Regions from separate parts of the Homo sapiens genome. Here region 1 is linked to region 2. Evidence: fine-mapped expression QTL. A gene starts in region 2. The other region holds a variant in brackets. All regions are shown on one strand. Distances are from middle to middle. Region 1 overlaps ALOX5 (arachidonate 5-lipoxygenase). Region 2 holds the start of ALOX5 (arachidonate 5-lipoxygenase).

Region 1 (5,000 bases), 45 kb after region 2:
CCAGCCAGACTTCAAAGCTTAAAATAATATTATTTATTTCTAAACATTGTGTCGGTGTTTTGGGGGGTACAATAATCTATTTTAAGCTTCATGGCCATCCTGGGAGGTAAATAATATTATTGACCATTTCTAGGTGAGGAAACTGAGTCTCCAAGGGGTCAAGGTCAAGGAGTTTGCCTAAAGTCATTTAGGCAGAAATTGGCAAAACCAGGATTTGAATCCAGGTCTGTTTGTGTCCAAAGCTGGGGCATTTTTCTCCTACCACAATTGGGGTCTACTGGAGAGAAAAATTAAAACCTAACATCTGGATTAGTAATGCAGCAGTATCCACCATCTCCCTGGAAACATCACGGCAGTTAGGGGCTCACTTCCCTTCCCCTACTCTGGGATTGGGATTGTTGATCAAAGCCATGTAGCTTTAGTGGGATAGGTCCCAGACCAGGATGGGACAGGCAGGACAGAAGGCCCTTGTGAAAGAGACAGTTTGGAGGGAATAATAAGGATGGTGAGGTAGTGAGGTGGAGAGTACTGCCACCCAGTTTGGAGGGAATGGAGGAATACTGGACAGATGGACAATCAAACCGATGGACAGGCAGATGGATGGGTTGAGGGATGGATGATGAATGGATGGATGAAGGGAAGGAGGAAGGATGGAAGAAGAGGTGGATGGGGGATGGATGGAGAGATAGATGAGAAATTGATATACGGATGGATGGATTCATGGATGGTGGATGGATGGATGGATGACAGATAGTGAGATGGATGGATGGATAGATGGGTGGATGGATTGATGGGTGGATGGTGAATGGATGGTGGATGGATGGAAGTATAGACAGAGAGATGGATGGATAGATGGATGGATGGATGGATGGAGGAATTAATGGTGGAGTGAAGGCCAGACTGTGCCTTTCTTATCTCTGTTCAGTGTTTCTGAAGGTCATTGTCATCTCTGTATCTCAGGAGCCTCTGTATCTTAGCAGCTGTCACAGAATAGGTGCTCATTAAATCCTATTAAAATGAAAGTGTGACCCACCTGGCCCCTGAGTGCCCCTGAGTGCCAGCTGGGTCACAGTCCATTTTAACAGGGTTTAATGAGCACCTATCCTGTGGTATAGAAGGTAACTGTGCACCTCCTTTTCATGTATCCCCATCATGGCTAACAACAGCCTAGACATATGGTTCTCAATCCTGTGTGTTTAGTGTTACAGACTCCATGCTGCCCACTCTGCACAAACTGTGGAACCAGGGGAAGTCCAGCACAGTTATATTTTAGGGCTACTGGTGGATTCCAGTGTATAGCCAGGATTAAGAACACTGGCCTGTAATGCCTTTCTGGGCCTCCCCACCCCCCACATATGGTTGCATCTATTTGCTGAGTCAAGTCCATCTGCTGGGTCCCAGGGAGTGCCTCCTCCTCTCCCAGCTCCACCATCTCTCCTGAGTGAGGGCAGGAGCATCTTTCCAGCTGCCTCCCTGGGCTCCATCTCTCAAGACAGTGGGAGGGCTTATTCTCAAGTGCTTGTATAATTTGTTGGAGGCTCGCTCTAAAAAGTAAATATAATTTCTTGGTTGGCTCAATTGCAGGTGAGAGCCCAGATGTCTCTGCCCAGAAATGGAGATACATCCATAGGGACGCACCCGCCCCTGCCATCTCTCAGGTCCTACATGCATAGGATGCTCCACCGTGGGGAGCCAGCAGGGCTTTGCAGAGCATCTCTTGTCTCTGACCTAGCTGTTTCCTTTGCCACACCCACCCTCCCCACTTCTTGGCCAAGACATGGGTGAGGGGCCCCTTCTTGCAGAAGCTTCTAGAAGCCTCTGGCCCCAGTGAGGTCCCCTCCCCTGTACTCCCCAGTGCCGCCCACCCTGCCCTTGGCCCCAGAAGTGCTGCAGCCCACGTTTCTCCACATCGTCCTGTCATTAGCCCCTTGAGTGATGGCCTATTGGCAGGAGCAGAGCGAAGGAATCCTGAGAGGGGCCCTTCTGCCCCTCCTGGCCCAGCAGGCTGGACAGTAAGCTTAGCCCCACTCTGAGCACCGCCTCTGTGCTGGCACAGTGGATGGAGACCCTTGAGTTCTGCGGGGGAGAGAAGAGGTGTCCCTGTATTTGAGGAGCTGAGCCAAGGGGGCTGGACCACAAGGAAGCAGCTTAGAGGAGCCTGTGTGGGGATGAGGGGTGCCTGGGAGAGGGCCCTGGGCCGGTGGGGGTTGGGGGGACCCTAGGAAAGTCGTCTAAGTTCCCTGAGCCTCGGTGTCCTCAAATGAACAATGAGACCCGGCCCCAGCTCCTCCCCAGGGTTGTGAGATTAAAATGGGATCGCACACATCAGCCCCTCAGGGAAGTTTCTCCCTAAAGACAGCCTTTGTCTTCTCCATTCTTGGTTCAGGCCCTCTGGGACCGCGTCTCCACCATCACACACCGGCCTAGGGCTGCACTCTTGGAAGGGCCCCTGCGCTTGCAGGGTGGGCAGGGGACCCTCGCTTCACCTGGGCGTCCTCTCTGATGGGGCCCAGGAAGGCTTTGCAGCCGGGGGCCATCTGACCAGGTCTTACTGGGCCCAGGCAGAGGTACGTGGGGCCTGGAGAATGGCACAGGGGGCTGCAGCGGAGAGAGACTGTGGGCACAGGTGTGGCGAGGCCAGGCCGCCGAGAGCCAAGTGGTTTGCGAAATTTCCTGGTGGTGTGGAGGGAGGAAAAGCTGATGTGTTCACCTCCCCACTCGCTGTTTGCAGCCTGGAAGACGATTGCAGGG[G/C]GTGGCAGGGCTGAAAAGACAATGTCCTCATTAAAGGAAATTGAGAAAGAGAGTTTCCTTCCCAGTGGGGCGGGACAGTGCAGAAATGCGGCCGGTCCTGGAAGAGGTGGGGGCGAGGGGTCGGGGGCTCACACGCCCTGCGATTTCCTCCCATGAGAATGGGCGGGGGCAGCTCCGGGAAGGGTGGCGGATGGAGCCGCCCTCTCCCCAGGACCACAGGGGCGCTTTCCAGTGAAGGCGCCGTAGGAAACGCCAGTCTGTGCCGCAGTGTACGTAGAGGCGCTATGAGCCCGAGTTTCCCACGTCCAGGGACAAACTGGGAGCCGTGACTGTCAGGCCGCGCGGAGGCTGCCCTGGCCGCCTTTGCGGTCAGGTGAAGGCGCAGAGGCAGGGAGGCCGGGCGAGCGCAGGCGGGCGGAGAGCAGACCACGCGGAAGAGGCCGAGAGAGAAAGCGGGGCACCCGGCCGGGGGGGTCATTTACAAGGGACGCTGGGCACGAAGGAGGCTGGGGCGAAGATGAGTCCAGGGGTTGGGTTGAGAGCGCTGCGCAGCCGGGCTGAGAAGAGAAGCTGACGAGTGACTCCCGACAAGGGACGGGGGAGAGGGAACCTGGGGGCAGGCAGAGGCCTAGGGGGTGGGCTCTGAGGGCAGCCACTCCCACCGGCCCTCCCCCAGCCCCGCAGGCCAGCCACATGCCCCGTGCTCCAGACGACCCAGCTACATGGATGGCAGCGTCCTGAAGGGGGATGATCGGTAGGGAGTGGGTGCGGAGGCTCACGCCTGTAATCCCAGTGTTCGGGGATTCCCGAGCGGGAGGATCGCTTGAGCCGGGGAGGTGGAAGCTGCAGTGATCTGCGCCACTGAACTCCCGCCTGGGCGGCAGAGTGAGACCCTGTTTCAAAAGGCACCAGGGGTGTAGGGAAGGAGCGATATCCCCCAGGCAAGGAAGGCTGCGGAGGGGCCAGGCCAGGAGAGAAGGGCCCTGAGCTCAGTGGACGGGCAGGGTGCCTGTGGAGGAAGGGAGGGACGTAGCAGCAGGAGGAAGGGTGAGGACCCAGGCTGGGGATCGGGAGAAGTGATGGCGGAGGAAAGAGAGGCCGGAAGAGGAGGGGGCCTGCTGGCCTGGCACTGGAAAGCAAAGCGTGGGTTTGTATATGGGAAGAAGACCACATCCCCTCTTATCGTCATCCCAACTCAGAAACCATTTGGCCCCAAGTCACCAAAGCACTCATAGGAACCACTTTTCCTGTGACACAAGTAGGATTCTCCCACTTTTAACTTCCCAAATGCTACCCGAAAGCCTCTGAAATCCTTGGAAATTTAAAAAATAATCCCCTTCTATTAACTGATGCCTATAAAACATATTGACTTTCATTAAATTTTGTTATGAAATCAGGGATGTGTCCCATTGTAAAATAAATTTGTTTGGAAAATGTAGGGTGGTATCCCATCTAAAAATCAGACGAGGCTAGAAAATTTCAATTTTATTTGCTAAGGTAGCATCATGTTGTTAAAAATGCATCATAAAATAAGACCAAGAGTTAATACAAAGCATGAAGTCATGTTTCCCTCAAAAAAATGATTTGTTCTGTAGTCAAATTAATTTGGAAAACATTGCAAACTCTTCAGCAGTGGTTCTCAAAGTATAGCTTGCGTCAGAATCCCCTGGGGCCCTTGCTAAAATCTGGATGGCTACACTCCCCGCCTAGAGTGGGTTAAACTCAGTGCCCACTGGCAGGAAACTGAAACTTGGCTGAAGTCACCGAGGAGGCCTTCCCCGTTAAACCTCTGGCTGGCGACAGCTTGGTTTCCTCGCCGCTGCTTCTGAGTAATTCTGGCACGCAGTTCCTCCTAGCCACCTGCTGTACCTGGAAGGGGGCCAGCCCTCCTCAGCAGGCTTTGCTCCTGCCCTGCACAGCACAACTGTGGCGTAAAAAATGGAAAAGCTGGTAGCAGAAGGAAAGAGCAGGGAGACAGAGGTTAGGTGAACCTCAATGGCCTCATTAAAGCAAATTGAGAAAGAGAGTTTCCTTCCCAGTGAGGCGGGACAGTGCAGAAATGCGGCCCGTCCTGGGAGAAGTAGGGGCGAGGGGTGGGGGGCTCACCGGGCACATGGCCAACAGCTGGTGCCCAGCCTGGGCCACAGTTTGGCACAGGAGAAAGCTGAAGATGCAGGAGAAAGCTAGGTCACTGCCCCTAGGCCAGGTGATCAAGGTGGCTGTTACCTGCCTGTGTGGCCTTGAAAAAG
Region 2 (5,434 bases):
TAAAAATTTCAAACTTGAAGACGAATAAGTAGAACAGTATTTATCAGGAGCTAGGGGATGTGGGGAAGAAGCAAAATATTGGGCAAAGAGTATAAACTTTCAGTTATGAGATGAAGGCCAGGTGCGATGGCTCATGTTGGTAATCCCAATACTTTGGAAGGCTGAGGCAGAGGGATTGCTTGAGACCAGCCTAGGCAAGAAAGTGAGACCTCATCTCTACAAAAAATAAAAATAAAAGAATCAGCTGGGAGTGGTGGCATACACCTGTAGTCCCAGCTAGTCAGGAGGCTGAGGGGGGAGGATCATTTGAAATTGGAAAGTCAAGGCTGCAGTCAGCCAAGATAGTGCCACTGCATTGCAGCCTGGGTGACAGAGCGAAACCCTGTCTCAAAAAAAAAAAAAAAAAAAAGATGAATAAGTTCTGGGGATCAAATGTACAGCATGGTGACTATAGTTTATAACTGCGTTATTACTTGAAATTGGATAAGAGCAGATTTTAAGCATCCCCAGCACCCCCCCAACATACACACACACAAATGGTAACTATAGGTGGTGATAGATATGTTAATTTGACTGTGACAATCAGCATTCAATATATACATATATCAAATCATCACATTTTACCCCTTGAAATAGAAACTTTGATTTGTCAATCAAATATTTTAAAACGAAAATAATCATAATATTAATATAGCATACAGGAAAAAATTTCGTATCTCGACTGATACAGAAAATTTCATGATAAAAACACTTTAAAACAAAAGAAATAAAAGGGAACTCCCTCAACCTGATAAATGGCATCTGTGGAAACCCCCAGCTAGCATCAAACTTAATACAGAAAGGCTGGGTGTTCACCTCTTGAACCAGGAACAAGACAAAGATGCCTGCTTTTGCCACTTCCATTTGACCTTGTACTGAGGTTCTGGCTAGGGCAATTATCCCTGAAAAAGAAATAAAAGGCTTCCAAATAAAAGAAGAAGTAAAACTATCTCTACTCGCTCATGACATGATCTTGCATATAGAAAATGTGCACATGTACACACACACAAACCATTAGAACTAATAAACAAGTTCAGCAAGTTTGCAGAATATAAAATGAATGTACAAAAATCAAGTGTTTTTCTATATACTAGCAATTAACAATCTCAAAATGAATTAAAATTCCATTTACAATAGTATCAAACATAAATTATTTAGAAATAAAAAGTGCACTGAAAACTACAAAATATTTTGAAATAAATCAGAAAAGATTTAAGTAAATGGATCACTTGAACCTGGGAAGCAGAGGTTGCAGTGTGCCGAGATTGTACCACTGCACTTTAGCCTGGGCAACAGAGGGAGACTCCAAAGAGTCGAAAAGAAAAGAAAAGATTTAAATAAGCTGAAACATATTCTATGGATCAGAAGACTTAATATTGTTAAAGTGACAATATTCCCCAAATTGATCTACAGCTTCAACTCAACCCCTATCAAAATCCTAGCTTGCTTTTTGGCTGAAATTGACAAGCTGATTCTATAATTTATATGGAATCTCAAAGGATCCAGAATAACCAAAACAATATTGAAAAATAAAGAACAGCGTTGGTGGATTAACATTTTCCAATTTCAAAACTTACTATAGCACTGCGGTAATCAAGCAGTGTGGCACTGTATAGCATGTACATTACAGATCAGTGGACTAGAATCAATGTCCAGAAATAAACCGTTATGTTTATAATGAATTACTTTTTAATAAGGTGTCAAGACAACGCAATGGGAAAAGAATAATGAATTCAACAAATGATGCATGGACAACCGGACATGCACATGCAACACAATGAATTTGAATTCTTCTATCGCTCCATGCATAAAAACTAACTCAAAATGGGTCACGGATGTAAATGAAAAGCTAAAACTATAATAATCCTAGAGGAAAACCTAGGAGTAAATCTTTAAGATGTTATTGTAGGCAGTGGTTTCTCAGATAGGACCCCAAAATCACAAGCGACAAAAGAAATTGGACTTAAAGTTAAATACTTTTGTGCTTCAAACATCATCAAGAAAGTGAAAACACAACCCGCAGAAGCAATAAAAATGTCTGTAAGTCATGTATCCGATTAGAGACTTCTATCCAGGATATATAAATAATGCAATTCAATGATAAAAAAGATAAATAGCCCAGTTTTCCAAAGAGTCAAGCATCTGAATATACATCTCTCCAAAAATATACAGATATCCAACAAGCATGTGAAAAGATGTTCAAAGCCATTTGCCAGGTGCACAAACCCAAGACAGTATGAGGAGATGCTACAGGGACTCTGCTGCTTCACAGACATGAAGCGTTGGTGAGAATGTAGGCAGCCGCCTTTGGGGACTTCACATCCCCGCCGCCCCACGCACGGTGAGCTAGTGTTTAAACTTAGCCGAGATCAATACACGCGACTGTGTGCCCGTCAGACCCTGCGCTGCCGGCGGGGCTGGGAGAGGCGGGCGCCAGGAGTGGGCGGGAACCTGGGGGTCAGGCCCCAGCCGCGGGAAGCCGCCCAGGAGCGCGCGAAACCTTCTCCACACCCTTCCAGGCATTTGCCCGCCGCGATTCAGAGAGCCGACCCGTGACCCCTGGCCTCCCCTAGACAGCCCCGCATGTCCAGATGTGCCGTCCCGCCTGCCTCCCGCGACCACTGGCCATCTCTGGGCCTGGGCGCGGTCTCGGCGCCCGCCTGCCCCCGCCAGGAGCCGCAGGTCCAGCCAGTGAAGAAGCCCGCGCTGAAGGAGCCTCTGTGCTCCAGAATCCATCCTCAGTATCAGCGCTGGGGTGGCCTCCTCCAGGAAGCCCTTCTGATTCTCTCATGGGTCGCTCTTCCTCTGCAGACTCCCGGAGCACCCCTGCTCCAAGTACCGCAAGTGGCACTGAGAACTTGGGGAGAGCAGAGGCTGTGCCTAGATTTGTAGGGAGTCCCCGCAGCTCCACCCCAGGGCCTACAGGAGCCTGGCCTTGGGCGAAGCCGAGGCAGGCAGGCAGGGCAAAGGGTGGAAGCAATTCAGGAGAGAACGAGTGAACGAATGGATGAGGGGTGGCAGCCGAGGTTGCCCCAGTCCCCTGGCTGCAGGAACAGACACCTCGCTGAGGAGAGACCCAGGAGCGAGGCCCCTGCCCCGCCCGAGGCGAGGTCCCGCCCAGTCGGCGCCGCGTGAAGAGTGGGAGAGAAGTACTGCGGGGGCGGGGGCGGGGGCGGGGGCGGGGGCGGGGGCAGCCGGGAGCCTGGAGCCAGACCGGGGCGGGGCCGGGACCGGGGCCAGGGACCAGTGGTGGGAGGAGGCTGCGGCGCTAGATGCGGACACCTGGACCGCCGCGCCGAGGCTCCCGGCGCTCGCTGCTCCCGCGGCCCGCGCCATGCCCTCCTACACGGTCACCGTGGCCACTGGCAGCCAGTGGTTCGCCGGCACTGACGACTACATCTACCTCAGCCTCGTGGGCTCGGCGGGCTGCAGCGAGAAGCACCTGCTGGACAAGCCCTTCTACAACGACTTCGAGCGTGGCGCGGTGAGCGCGGGCGGGGCACGGGTGGAGCGCGGGCTGAGGTGCGTCCGGGACCCGGTTTGGACGGCAGAGGCCTGGGCGGGGGCGCCGAGGGCCCGTCGGGGCGGCCCGGACAGGACTGGGGGTGTCCAGGACCCTGTCAGGGAGGGCAGAACTGCGGTGGGGCGTGCCCTGGGCTCCCAGTGGCCGGTGGGTACCCTGGTGGGCAAGCGTCCAGGACCCCTCGCGGCGGCCGCGACCCCTGTCGGAAACGGAGACTTCCCGCGTGCCGCCTGCAAGGCGTCTTCCCTGGGAGGAGAAGGCCCAAGGTTTCCCCTCCACTTCAAGATCTGGGCTCCGAGGCTCCGGAGCCCCCTTCACTGGGCCGCGTTTCTTGTGCCACCTCTTCCTTAGGCTCCTTCTGCAGGTCGCACAGGGAGGGAGAGGCAGATGAGTCATGCTCACAGAACTCTGAGGGCACCTCGGAGCAGCCAGCTGTGAGCCGTGGGGAAGGGTGCACGTCAGCGGGTCCAGAGGCCTGAGTTCTGTCCAGACATGACCACCAGCTCACTCTACCGTCTGTCTGGGCCTCAGTTTCCCCAGCTGAAAATGGAGGGTTGGCTTCAGTCTGGTCCATGAGTCATGGGTGAGCCCAGGCCCATCTGGTGGCTCAGACGGCACCTGGGCAGCTTACATTCTCAGGACAGTCCCCAGAGGAAATTAAAGGGAAGGAACAGAACCCAGGCCAGGAGAGGCTTTTCCTAAATGGAGGGGCTGCACTCCCTCCCAGCAGAATGTACACCAGGGAACACTTCCACGCTAGGTGTGAGGACGCGAGGGAGCCCTCAGCATTTGGAAGCTAGTTCCTAATGCTGATCTGGACCTGAATTCCAGCCCCACGACTCTTTTCCATGAGCATGGGCAGGTCGCAGTTCTCACTGAGCCTTTAATGAAGTGCCTAATCCAGTACCTGGCACAGAGGAAGCGCTCCGTAAATGACTGGTAATAGTCCCAGACATACTGCAGGTGCGCAGGGAATATCAGTTCCCTTCCACCCCACCCCAGCTCCTAACTGGACCAAAAAGATTTAGACTTTACCAAGCTGCCTTCTCACCATTTAGTTTATTATTTGATCAAACCTTGTGAAATTGCTCATAATGGACAAATACAACCGGCAAGTTCATGTTTCAACTGATTACTCTTGGATAAAATTTGTGTTTTAGGTGTGCAGAGCCTAAAGTAAGTAAAAACTACTCTTTTTCTGGATTCCAAGCTCTCCATGGGCTCGATTCCTATCCAGGAGCCCATACCCTCGCTGTAGCACGACATGGCCCTCAGCCAAGTTCACTAGCATCCTGGCTTGAGCTCCCTTCAAGAAGAGTTAGGTGTTGAGTACAAGAGCAACCTTCAGTTGCTTAGTTGCCCCAGTCGGGGAACTGACCCTGAGGACTGCGGTGCCCTGGAGTTAATGTGTCGTCCATTTAGGGTGATGGCACCCTCTGCCATTTCTGACGCACCTTCATTTACTTCCATTATTTCATGGATTCCCCACACCTGGGGGAGAAGGACAGGGTACAGGCTACTTCCCCTTTGTAAGTGCTTCCTCCTCCCCATTCTCCTCCACACATCATAAGGTTCTAGAAGCACAGGCCATTGGTGTGCTCACACTGCACAGCACGGGCACCCCGTGTGTGCTTTCCTCCTGCAGGGGACATGATAACGTGGCCATAGCGGGCTCTTCGGACAAAGAGTGAAGGCACTGTTTTGTCCACTATCTCCCTCTCTCGGTCTGTCTTCCCCTACCCTGAGAAGTCATTCAAATGACATTATAATTAAACACCTCAGCCGGAATCCCAGGGGCAAATTTCAGGAGAGATTTGCATGTCACATTTCCATTGGGTTGAGAGGGCTATAAGTCAGGGGTGGGGCGGGGGG

The links. PIP is the estimated chance that this variant, and not a neighbour inherited with it, causes the effect.
Region 1: its variant is fine-mapped to the expression of ALOX5 in whole blood (TOPMed, PIP above 0.99).

Annotation. Positions count from the first base shown.
Region 1 is chr10:45,416,088-45,421,087 of GRCh38, forward strand. All of the region lies in intron 4 of ALOX5 (arachidonate 5-lipoxygenase), which reads left to right. Among named protein-coding and RNA genes, the nearest start is that of ALOX5, 44 kb to the left of the region's middle. RefSeq lists enhancers at 2,852-3,545, 3,546-4,237, 4,266-4,767. The variant G/C (reference allele first, on the strand shown) is at 2,752.
Region 2 is chr10:45,370,907-45,376,340 of GRCh38, forward strand. It overlaps ALOX5 (arachidonate 5-lipoxygenase), which reads left to right and starts at 3,310. Exons shown (of 14, transcript NM_000698.5): 1 at 3,310-3,523. The coding sequence starts at 3,374. RefSeq lists enhancers at 3,078-3,688, 3,689-4,297.